Linked DNA regions of Homo sapiens. The protein of the gene in region 3 purifies or fractionates together with the protein of the main gene of each other region. This does not show direct contact. Each region holds a gene or a part of one and is shown on either strand. Other genes may lie near its edges.

Evidence for each region.
Region 1: the proteins of DHCR7 (region 3) and IDH3A purify together in Homo sapiens (affinity purification with mass spectrometry, with the first as the bait; one large-scale study listed by BioGRID). This does not show direct contact.
Region 2: the proteins of DHCR7 (region 3) and DHCR24 purify together in Homo sapiens (co-immunoprecipitation; one study listed by IntAct). This does not show direct contact.

The regions. Positions count from the first base shown.
Region 1 is NC_000015.10:78,166,362-78,169,403, reverse strand, and holds part of IDH3A (isocitrate dehydrogenase [NAD] subunit alpha, mitochondrial precursor), read right to left. Parts: intron 1,937-3,042; exon of another isoform or gene 1,029-1,936; coding exon of another isoform or gene 919-1,028; exon of another isoform or gene 483-918; coding exon 399-482; 3' UTR 1-398. Other genes in the region: long-chain-fatty-acid--CoA ligase ACSBG1, read left to right, coding at 919-1,028. UniProt on the Homo sapiens protein: Catalytic subunit of the enzyme which catalyzes the decarboxylation of isocitrate (ICT) into alpha-ketoglutarate.
Region 2 is NC_000001.11:54,852,696-54,856,195, forward strand, and holds part of DHCR24 (delta(24)-sterol reductase precursor), read right to left. Parts: intron 1,540-3,500; coding exon 1,342-1,539; intron 918-1,341; coding exon 739-917; intron 1-738. UniProt on the Homo sapiens protein: Catalyzes the reduction of the delta-24 double bond of sterol intermediates during cholesterol biosynthesis.
Region 3 is NC_000011.10:71,441,694-71,446,909, forward strand, and holds part of DHCR7 (7-dehydrocholesterol reductase), read right to left. Parts: intron 3,266-5,216; 5' UTR 3,260-3,265; coding exon 3,162-3,259; intron 2,594-3,161; exon of another isoform or gene 2,523-2,593; coding exon 2,300-2,522; coding exon of another isoform or gene 2,264-2,299; intron 661-2,263; coding exon 570-660; intron 1-569. UniProt on the Homo sapiens protein: Oxidoreductase that catalyzes the last step of the cholesterol synthesis pathway, which transforms cholesta-5,7-dien-3beta-ol (7-dehydrocholesterol,7-DHC) into cholesterol by reducing the C7-C8 double bond of its sterol core.

The DNA of each region.
Region 1 (3,042 bases), on a different chromosome or scaffold from region 3:
TTTCAAAAACCGAAGAAAATAAGGTTTTTCTTAAAAAGTTAGACATTTTCTCTTGTTAATTCTGTATCCTGTTATTTACAGCTGAAGAGAAACTATTTTAACTTAAGTGTAAAATGGTTTAGAATAGCAAATGATACAGTCCACTCAGAGTTTACAAAAAAAACATTTACCAGGTAGACACTTAATAAATAAAACAAGCACTTGGAAAAAGTTCTTTGAAAACAGACCTAGGGACATCCACCTGCATCTTTTGCACAGATTTTGTTAAGAAAAGGCCAGATCTAAAAATGTACTGTCAAGAAACAAGCAAACCAATGCATACATACGTAGGTATTCTAAACAGAGGTTCATGTGGTGTCCATTTAGAGTGACTGATGTAAATGCCAGTTGTAGAAGTGTTAATCTAAATCTTTTACTCGGCGACAGATTTCCTCTGTGAAGTCTGAGCATTTTGCATTGCCTCCCAAATCTTTTGTCAAGCTCTGAGAAAAGGAAAAAGCAAAAATAAAAGATGTATCCGCAAACTAAACTAAACCAAGGAGATTTTAAAGCCCTCAGTGAGATGCCACCTGGGCAAGTTACTCGGCTGCTCTTTCATTTAGTTCCTCATTTCAAAGTGAGGAACCACTCCACCACCATCTACCCAGCCCAGGAGGATCGGGATCCAATCTCATAGTGTATACAACAGCACTCTGCAAAGAATAAGGTGCTCTTGATGCAAAGGGAGGCAGGGAGCTTTACCAAAATTTTCCCTTTGTTCACACAATAGACCCTAACCCAGATTAGTTGGTCATGGATATTTAAATAAAAGCGAATCTAAATAAGAAGTTTCATAAAAATCCTTGGGAAATATGTCTCAGGAATAGACCTGAGACATATTTTGATCTATTTTTGTTTTTATTATTATTTTTTTTTTAGATGGAGTCTCACTCTGTTGCCCAGGCTGGAGTGCAGTGGCACGATCCCAGCTCACCACAACCTCTGCCTCCTGGGTTCAAGCGATTCTCCTGCCTCAGCGTCCTGAATAGCTGGAATTACAAGTGCATGCCACCATACCCAACTAATTTTTGTATCTGATCTATTTTTGGAGGCTGGGACACAAATACGAAAGAAATATTTAAATCATTAACTCTTTTTTTTTTTTTTAAGAGACGGGGTCTCACTATGTGGCCCAGGCTGGTCTTGAACTCAGAGGCTAAGGTGATCCTCCTGCCTCAGCCTATAGCTGCAACTACAGGCATGCACCACCACACCTGCCTAAATCATTAACTCTTAAACCTCCCTCTTTAGGAAAGAAAGCCTCCCATACAACTGATCTGTTCTACCAGCTTATCCTTTCTTTCCTGCATACAGACCCCAATATATTTAATTCTCTTTATCTTTCCATCCTACACAATAAAAGGGCCCACTATGTAATTCAGGCACCTCTCTACTGGGCTGTAGATTATAACTTCCCAAATATAACTTTAAAGAATAAGAAAATCATATGACCTCCAATGTGACTATCAGGCTGTTAAAAACAAGCCTGAATTTCTTGTATTTTGGCCACACGATATAATTTCAAATTACAGAATTTTTTTAAAAGAAGGGACCAACTTTGAAGATATTACGCTAAGTGAAATAAGCCAGACTCAAAGGACAAATACTGTATGATTCCACTTACATGAGGTACCTAGAGTAGTCAAATTCATAGAGACAGGAAGCAGAATGGCAGGTGTCAGAGGATGGGAGGGGGAAGGGAAAGTTACTGTTTAACGGGTGCAGAGTCTCAGTTTGAGAAAATGAAACTGGTCTGGAGATGACTGATGGTGATGGTTACATTACAATGTGAATGTACTTAACATTATTGAACTGTATACCTAAATACGGCTAAAATGGCAAATTTTATGTTATGCATATTTTTCACAATTTTTGTTAAAAAGGACCTCAAATTAGGGATGAGTCTTCAAGTGCATTATTTCCTCTAACTTCGGAATAGCCCGCGACACTTCTTCCACAGGCCACAATTGCTTACCGAGGCGGTGGAGCTTGTTGGGTAAGGCCCAGACTGCGTGTTAATACCAACTTGGGTCATTTAGGAGCTGTAAAACCTTGGACATATTATTTATTCTCTCTGTACCTCAGTTTCCTCATCTATAAAATGGAATTATAGCATCTACTTCAAAGAGTTATAGAAAAACTTTGCTGAGATGATATATAAAGAACTTAAAAGTTGCATAAGTATTCAATTAATATTAGTTATTACTTTTATAAAACTTCTGTATTGCTTTTGTATTATAGATGCACACAGTGTAACATATAAGACTATTGTATTAGAGGTACATCTGCATCTGTATCTGCCACTAGATTCCCAGCTCCTTGAGGCTCAGCATCTTACCCTATTCATCATTTTACTCTTCACACCTTATAAGGTACACTCAACAGACGTTTGTTGTGAAGAGTAAAAAGTTGTCTATAAAAATCAATGAACTTGGCCGGGTGTGGTGGCTCATGCCTGTAATCCCAGCACTTTGGGAGGCTGGGGCGGGAGGATCACTTGAGCTCAGGAGTTCGAGACCAACCTGGCCAGCATGGTGAAACCCCATCTCTACTAAAAATACAAAAATTAGCTGGGTGTGGTGGCACACGCCTGTAATCCCAGCTACTAGGGAGGCTGAGGCAGGAGAACTGCTTGAACCCGGGAGGTGCAGGTTGCAGTGAGCCAAGATTATGACACTGCACCCCAGCCTGGGTGACAGAGCAAGACTCTGTCTCAAAAAAAATCAATGAACTTGGCCAAGGTCACACAGCTAACAATAGGATAATTGGGCGTGCACCTGATGCTGCCTCCCAAACCACTGACCTTTCCACTGTACACTGATGTCTATACATCAGTGCTGCTTAACTTTTTTTGGATGAAATATCTAGATCCTCACCTCAGAAAATGCACACATGTGCACACATACCCTGTTCAATCTGGGACCCACGTTAAGAATCCTTGTTCAACATCAAATGCTTGGGCCCGCCTGAGAACTATTATCTGTCACTGTCCCTTTCACTCAG
Region 2 (3,500 bases), on a different chromosome or scaffold from region 3:
TTTTCCTTTAATCTGTTATTGACTTTCAATAAACTAGACATAATTTAAAGTACACAATTGGATAAGCTTGACACATGCATGCAACCAAGGACTCCAATCACTGCAGTCCAGATCGTGGCTATAACCATCAGCCCCAAACTTTCCCCATGCCCCTTAGTTATCCGTTGCCCTCTGCCATCCCCAGGCAACTACTGATGCGCTATCAGTATGGATTCATGTGTGTTTTTGGGAATTTTATATGAAAGGAATCATATGGCATTGTTTTTTCCTGGCTTTGTCCATGTTCCACTCAATAGTTTATCCAGGCTGTTTTCTGAGCAATCCTCTGTCCTGGGCCTCTCCGTGGTTTTCATAGACAGGAATCCCTCTCTCCTTAGCTTTGGCCTTTCCATCTGGAGCAGTTGCCCCTGGACCCAGCTAAGCCCACACCCATCATCTGTTCCGTGGGGAGGAGTGGGGTGACTCCCAGGTTTCTGGCTGGGGCTGCTGGGGGGGTGTGACATGTTCACTGGAGGAGGGGGTGCAGGGAGAAGAGGGCAAGTAGTCCTGCAAGCCCACCCCCTGCCCATCTTTCACAGCTTACCTCCTGACCCAGAGGCTGCCACAGCTGCAGGGGCCCTAAGGAACCAGTTGATAGGCTTGGGGCTCCTGGTTCTCCATAGAGCTGGCCTCATTCCCCTGGAGCAGTACCCTGGGGCTGTCAGCTAGAGGCAACATACTATACTCTGGGCCACTCACCCATGCACGCTGCGGACAAACTTCTCCAGCTGCCTCATGCAGGACCTGGCTTCAAAGTGTTTCACACGCGGCTCCCCATATGCTCCAATGTCGATGTAGAGCTCTGCCTCATTTCCTTTGGGGTGCACTAGGCCTGGCTGGCTGGGCAGGATGAACGGACACAGCCAGATGGGGTAGACCTGGGTAGACCAGGGAGGTGGGTATTGGTGCTTTTTCTCCAACAGGTGACAGGCTCATGGCTGGCCCGCTCATACCCACCCAAATGAAGGCTTTGCAGCATTCTCAAGACCCCCTCAGGTGCTCTCAGCTTCACTGCCCCGCCCCCCAGCCCTGGCTGAGAACACCCTGACTCCACCACCTTGGAGGACACAATCGGAGCAGGTCATGGGAGTGCTCGATGCCAGACCCTATGACTCCTCTCCCAGGGGGGCCATCACTGAGTGGGTTGAGGCCTCAGCAGACATAGGGACAAGGACCTCATCTTAAAGTTGGGAAAACACCCAGAGGGCAGTGTGCCCAAGGTCGGTCACACGGTTCAGGGGAGGAGACCATGGATTCCAAGGGAATGCACCTGGTGCGCCCTCCCTGCCCTGCCCCACTCACGTGGATGTCGTTTTGGAAGGTGTGCAGGGCCTGCTGCAGGCACTTCATGGGCACCAGCATGTCCTGCACCACGTGGTGCTGCTCGTACAGCTTGCGCAGGGTCTCACCCTGGGTCAGCTTCAGGAGGGAGATCTTGGGAGGCACCATCCAGCCAAAGAGGTAGCGGAAGATGGGGTTGTTGCCAAAGGGGATAATGTCCTGGAAAACAAAGATTAGGGTTGGAGAGAAAAAAACCAACAAGGGTTGAATGTCTCCAAGTGCAAGGGGCCAGGGGCCAGGTCCCATTCTGTGCTTGACAGAAGCACGCCTGAGTCCAATTCCCCTCTTTGGAGGGGGTGTGATGGGACCTAGGACTTTACCAGTCCAATCTAGGTTTGCTTCTCAGCTCTGGCATTCGCCAGTAGTGATGACCCCGGGCTAGTTACTTAACTTCTTTGAGCTCAGTTTCCTTATCTGTAAAATGGGCCTTGTGAGGATAATGAGATATTAATACCAAGTGGAAGGCACTCAACCCCATGCCTGGAGTGCAATAATGAGCTAGCTATCATTCCTGATCTAGCTGTTGAGATCTGGCTGGAATAGAGCTGGCATTCCATAAATGTTTGAGAAACGAATGCTGTTGAATGAGCATAGTGATTCTTAGAGAATTTAAGCAGTCTCCCTAGGGGCACACAGCCAGAGACAGCGCTCATGGGGTGGGTGCAGTCTGGCTCAGGTTCGACAAGGAGCCCACTGGTTTGCAGCATCCCTTGCTCACAGCCTGACCACCCGCCTGGCTCCCCCAATTCGGTCTCCCTGGAAACCCTCCTGCGCAGAAGCTGTTCTCTTCCACGCCTCAGACTGCCACGAGGCGGGAGCTTCCTCACTCAGCACTGCTGCCTCCTGACGATGGCCCCCTCTTCCCTCCAGCTCTGCCCACCTCCAACAGAGAAGACTTTGGCCCCTGGGTCACAATCCTCCTCCCTGCTTGAGTCCTACCATGTTCCTGAGGGTCCCCAGTGTCCACTGATGCCCGATTCTCACAGCTCTGGGAGCCCTTGAAGCCAAGGCTGCTCCTCCATTCATTAAACAGTTCTGGCCAGGCACGGTGGCTCATGCCTGTAATCCCAGCACTTTGGGAGGCCGAGGCAGATGGATCATGAGGTCAGGAGATCGAGACTATCCTGGCTAACACGGTGAAACCCCGTTTCTACTAAAAATACAAAAAATTAGCCGGGCATGGTGGCGGGCGCCTGTAGTCCCAGCTACTCAGGAGGCTGAGGCAGGAGAATGGCGTGAACCCAGGAGGCGGAGCTTGCAGTGAGCCGAGATTGTGCCACTGCACTCCAGTGTGGGCGACAGAGTGAGACTCCGTCTCCAAAAAAAAAAAAAAAACAGTTCCAAGGGGCCTCCGAGGTCAGGAACCAGGTTCTATGCTGGGTGCTGGGGAACCAAGATAACTGAGACATGGTCTCTGTCCTTAAGACACCCACAACCGCAGGTGTGGAAGACACAGGCCACTGGATGAGTGTGGGAAGAGTGGGGACAAACAGAGGCTGGGGCAGCTCATGAAAGGGTCCACATCAGACTAGGGGGCACGGTGACTCCCCAAAGCAGCCATGTGTGTAAGCACTGAAGGCTGAGTGACCCTTTCCCTCACTCCTCTGGAGCTGCCGGACCACTCCCATGAAGTCAGGGACCTGCCTGTTTTCTTCTGTTAGATCCTGCGCCTTTGCCAATGTCTGGCATGCAACAGGATCTCAATAAATAGCCTGGCTTTTATTGTTTCCTTGGTTACCTTTGGAAGACCTACACATGCCCACAGCAGAAATCCCCATAGTACAAAAGTTAAGCCTCCCTGCGCATTCCTGACCCTGTTTCCCTCCCAGCAATGACCTGACCTGGCTCCCCACCCACCCTCAACTCTCCTCCCCCTCCCTAATGGCAAGCATTGGTAAGAATGATTTGCCTACCCTTTGGGGGACATCTGATACGGAGAAGCAGAGGAGCTTTGAAAAAACAGAAAGCAAAAAAACCTCATAAATGGTGGCATCTTAGCACCACTGGCTCATCACTGTATCCTGTATCAATACAGAGGGCACTACTGCCTTCGGTTGTGGGTGTCTAATGTGTGCTGCAGGGGTCCACAAATTCGGCCCACCCTCTGGTTGTGTGTTCCT
Region 3 (5,216 bases):
GTGACAGGTGTGCAGTCTGATAGGGAGGTCAGGGCTGAGGGGCAGAAGCAAGTGAGGATGCCCCTGTGGTATGCCTGGCCCCCTCTGTAATTGTTGGGGAGCACCTCAGCCCATCCACCCCTCAAAACAGGGAGCTTCTGGGGGCAGAGTTGGGATGCGGTTCCAGTCTGCACCCACGTGAGAGGCACAAAGCCAGGCTCCTCGTGGGTTCTCAATGATGGCAAGGAATGAACAGACAAGGTCTCCCACGGACAGCCCCGAGGAATGGTGGTCTCTGCATGGTGGTCTCTGCAGGAAGCTTCATGGGCCGAGTGCATCCCCTGCTATGGGGCTGGGAAGGAGCTGGGCCATCCATTCCCTCCTTACCCAGGAAAGTGATTTCTAACCTGGGTGTGGGATGGCCCCAGCTGCCCTCAATGGTTTTGAGGCCTGGTGCTGTGAAAAATCCAAGCAAAATGGATTTCTATCCTGTGACAAGTCTTAGGGACAAAGCAGCGCTGGGGAGGACTGGCCCCTGAGAGAAAGGGATGAGAACGGGAGCCTGGGGAGGGTGGAAGGGAGGAGGCTACCTGCAGGAGTCACGGCCCCCTCCTGGATGCCTCCTACGTAGCCGGGTAGAAACTTATGGCAGAAGTCAGGGAGAGACGTGTACAGAAGCACCTGAAACACACAAGCAGCCTGATCACCCCCCGCCTGGAGGGCACCTGCAAAGGGGGACGCATAGCAGGAACATGAGAATCACAATCATAGTCTTTTTCTTCCTGAAGCACTTATGGCTCCTGGAAGCTCAAACTGCTGGGCTGTGGGTTTTGAAGGGGGTTCTGAGACAATAAACTCATCAACCAGGGAAGGTGCCAAGGCGTTCTCCCCCAGGGCTCCATTCGCCCCTCAGGAGAGCGCACAGGTCCCTCCCAGTCACCTTTTTAAAATGGAGAATCCCATAAAATTCAACTTTTTATATATATATATAAATCTATCTTTGAGATGAGGTCTTGTTCTACCACCCAGGCTGGAGTGTAGTGGTGCAATCATAGCTCACCGCAGCGTTGTCCTCCTGAGCTCAAGTGATCCTTCCACCTCAGCCTCCCAAGTAGCTGGGATTACAGGTGTGCACCACCACACCCGGCTAAAATTCACCCTTTTAAAGTGCACAATTCAGCGGCATTTAGCGCATTTACATGGTTGGTTGTACACCTATCACTGCTAATTCCAGAACTTTTCATCACCACAGAAGAAAATGTTGTTCCAATCTCCGGTCACTCTGAATTCCCTGTCCCTGCCGCCCCTGGCTGCCACTGAGCTTTCTGCCTCTGTGGATTTGCCTGTACTGGGTATTGCATATAAAGGGAACCACACAGTATGCAGCCTCTGTGACTGGCTTCTCTCGCTCAGCAGTGTCTTCAAGGGTCATCCGCCTACTGGCATCAGAGCTTCATTCCCTTCCGCTGCCAAATAGTGTCCCACAGTGGGCACAGTGTTCTGTTCTGTGGGTCCATTCATCTACTGATGGACAGGTGGGGGTTCCTGCTTTGTGGCTATTTGTGATTCACACTGCCCCTGTCATTTTTCACTCAAAGGGACCAAGAGATCTGAACTGAGAAGTATTCTGGAGCCCAGAAGCTTGGACCCTGGGGAGAAACAGCTAATCATGATCTGAGCCTTCCTCCCGCCCAGGAAGGAAAACCCAGGCCTGTCTCTTTCTAGCACCGTTTCCCTGGAAACCTTTTCCTGGGTTCAGGCAATCAGCACCACCCATGTGTGCACCAGGTTTACAACAACCCCTTCCTGGAACTCCCTCTGGACTGGGAGGCCAGTGGGGACACCATGGAGCTGAGGACGTCCTGGACCTGCCTCGACTGCCTGTGGGGAAACATGGCCCTCGCTTCTCTGAGTGGCATCTCATGACTGAGAGAGTCCCTTTGGGGACTGAGATGCTCCTTTCCAGACCTGGTGCAAGGCGTGACTCCTGCTGACAATGGGGCTTCCTCAGGACAGCACTGCCCTCCCACGGGGTTTTGCTCCTATCCTCAGCTTGTCCCTGCAGAGCTGGGCGTGCCCAGCAACTGCATGCAGGCATGCCGTGAAGGTGTATCAAACGCTGATGTGACAGGTGCCTCCTGCCTTACAGCTGAGGATGAATCTGAACATGTCAGAGTCCAGGGAATGCCCTGCTGGGTCCCGGGAACCCAGATGTCAACCTGAGCCAGGATCCATGTCCCAGACAAATGGAAGGACTACCCCAGCAGGAGGGCACGCTCCCCACCTGCTGTGTCCCAACCCCAGGGCAGGGGCTGCTGACCTGGAAGGTGACCCACAAGGTATAGAGCTGGGCGGCTTTCCTCGTTATAGGTGGAGTCTTGGCCCAGATGTCCGAGAGCCGAGCATGTCCGGTGACGATGTCCACCACAGGGCCAGTCAGGGCGCAGCTGTACTGGTCACAAGCCATGATGAAGTAGTAGACGATGAAGGGGGCGAACAGCAGTAGGAAGATGACGCTCGCCAGTGAAAACCAGTCCACCTCCCTGCGAGGACGGATGCAGGCAGTCACACTGGGGCCCATCTGCCCTGGGCCCCACCAGGACCCTAAGAGGCTCTGTGTGGGAGAACTGTTGCTCAAACCCACCAGTACCCCATGACAGAAGGCATTAGCTCCTAGCACGGGCCCTCCTTGCGGCCAGGGAAGCCACTCAACATGCCTGCTCTACTGTAGTTGATTAACTGGTGGCACTATCTGTGGCCCCCATGGAAGGCCCAGAGCTCAGAATATGAGCGGAGGTAGGTCTTTCACAACCACCAAGGCCAGTGGTTTCCCCAGTTCCAGGTCGGAGAGGATACTCACCCTGCACGAAGTCCCCATGGTTCTATGGCGAAATGGGAGCTGTGACAATAGGTCATACCCCCAGATGGTGGGAAGGCCCCAGCTGCCCTTTAAGCCTTTATCTTTTTTTCTAAGTTGTTGACTGACCATGATTTCTAGTTTCTTTTTATAATTCCTTACTTTATAAAGTGGAAAACTGTTTACCTTTCATTAGTCTTGACAAAAAAAAAAAAATCTTTTTTAAAAAGGTCCTTCATTCCTTTGGGTCCATACAATTCCAAAGGCTGGAAAGCTCTGAGACCACACTTTACTTTCTAGCTGGGAGAACAGGCAAGATCCTTACCAGGCACGGCCCCACTGCCCTTGAGATGCGGTTCTGTCATTGGTGACGCCATCTAGACTCTTGGCTTTGGGAATGTTGGGTTGCGATTTTGCAGCCATTGGGCCCTGCAAGAAAGAGAACCTTGCTTACATTATCCCTCAAATAACAGACACCACCTTTCCCTGTTGCATCCACCACTGCTCCTGGGCCTGGCAGGGCTGGCCTCCTGTGCACATCTTCCCGGTACCTTGTTCCTGACAGCAGATTCCAGGCAGGGAAGAGATCATCTTGTCTTAGACTCTCTTCCTTGGACCCTGCAATCACCTCCCACGTGACCTTGCTATGGCTGCTCTTGCTAGTCTCAGTTCATTCTCCAAACATGGCAGAATGCCCCCCCTCTTACAGCACAAGCTGGCTCCTGCCTCCCTCCTACACACCACTCTCCCCTATTCTCCTTTGGCTCCAGGAACACAGGGGTCTTCACTCATCCTTGAACACAGTTTAAATTGTCTGTGGCACTGACTTCCTCTGCTTAGAGCACGTTTGCAGGTGTCCTTGTTCAGGGCTCATGTAAAATGTCCCCTCCTGGGGAGATCTTCCCTCTCAGCCAATCTGAAGCAGCTGCTCCCCAGCTTCCCTGCCAAGGCCCTCCACTGGGTACTTTATTTTCTTAGTAACTCTCCCCATCGCCTAGAAGTATTCATTTGTGTGTGTGTATTGTCTGTCTCCCCTCACTAGAATGTAAGCTTCCCAAGGGCAGGAATTGTGTGTCCTCTTCATTGTTCTACTACCAGGGCCTAGAACAGTGGCCCATGTAGGACCATCAATAATCACCCTTCAAAAAAAAGGGGAAGAGAACACAGAATGTCTCTAGGTACCCACAGCTGCTCTACATGGTTATAATTTGGGGGAAGCAGTGACATCCCCACTTCCAGAACAAGTTCATAACTGTGAAGCTTTAAAATATCTGAGATTTTTTAAAAGATGCTCTTGAAAGCTTTTAGAGAAAAAACAGGAGTAAAAATCACAGTAGGCTTAGATTTCTCAACAGCAAGCTGGATTCTAGAAGACAATGATGAAAAACTTCAAAATTTTGAGGAAAACTTTTTGCAACCTAGAATTCTACTCCTATGTGAACTATTACTCAAGGACAACAACATAGGATCCAGGAAACTGGAGACCCAAGAGAGCTGCTGAAGCCATGTCCACAAAAGGGCAGGGGCAAGTCCCAAGAGGACAGCTATGCAGCAGGACTAACCAGAAACCAGTCCACATTGGTACAAGATGAATGGCTAGGAAAGAGAGGAAATGAAAATGATGAATTTTGTTGCATCTGAATGTGTAGGAAAATTATTGATATATGTGACAGCTCGGTTAGAGCATCCAGAAAAAAATGAATGAGAGATGCATAGAAACCTTACCAAATGAAAAAAAAAAAAAAAAAAAAAGGAAGGCAACTGTTAACTCCAGGAAAAATAAAAAGTCATATAAGGAAGGAAAAAAAGAAACCAAGCCATTATTATAGGACCTTACTTGGCTCAACAGTGAATAATGGTAATTTTGTCATAACAATGTATACTCTGACTATTTATTGACTATTGTATGCACAGAAGGGAATTTGCAAAGTTAGGGGTACTAAAAGGAAATTACTTAGAAACAAGTAGGTACAAACAACAACACAAAAGTAGCTGAAAGAATGAAAAGTGTTTGCTGCTGGCAAGCAAGACTGTCGGATGTGGGATGTGGTAGAGAGTATTTCTTCTGAAGCCTTTTAACACTGATTTTTAAAAAAATGTGTGCATGAATTACTTTAATAAAAATTCACACACATTTAAAAAATTTCAACGATGAAAGACATTTTCCTTATGCAGTGTGAGAACTTCAGTACCCGCACTTCATTCAATTTACACAAGTTAGTTTATGCAGTTCCTATGATGCACAAAACAAGACGAAGAGTTCTTGATAGGAAGAGACCGTGTCTCTCTCCGGCCCCAAATACTGAATACAGAGCCTGGCGAGTGCCAGTCACTCTCCTTATATCTGTAAAATCAAAGTGGATGAAAGAAAACTACTTCT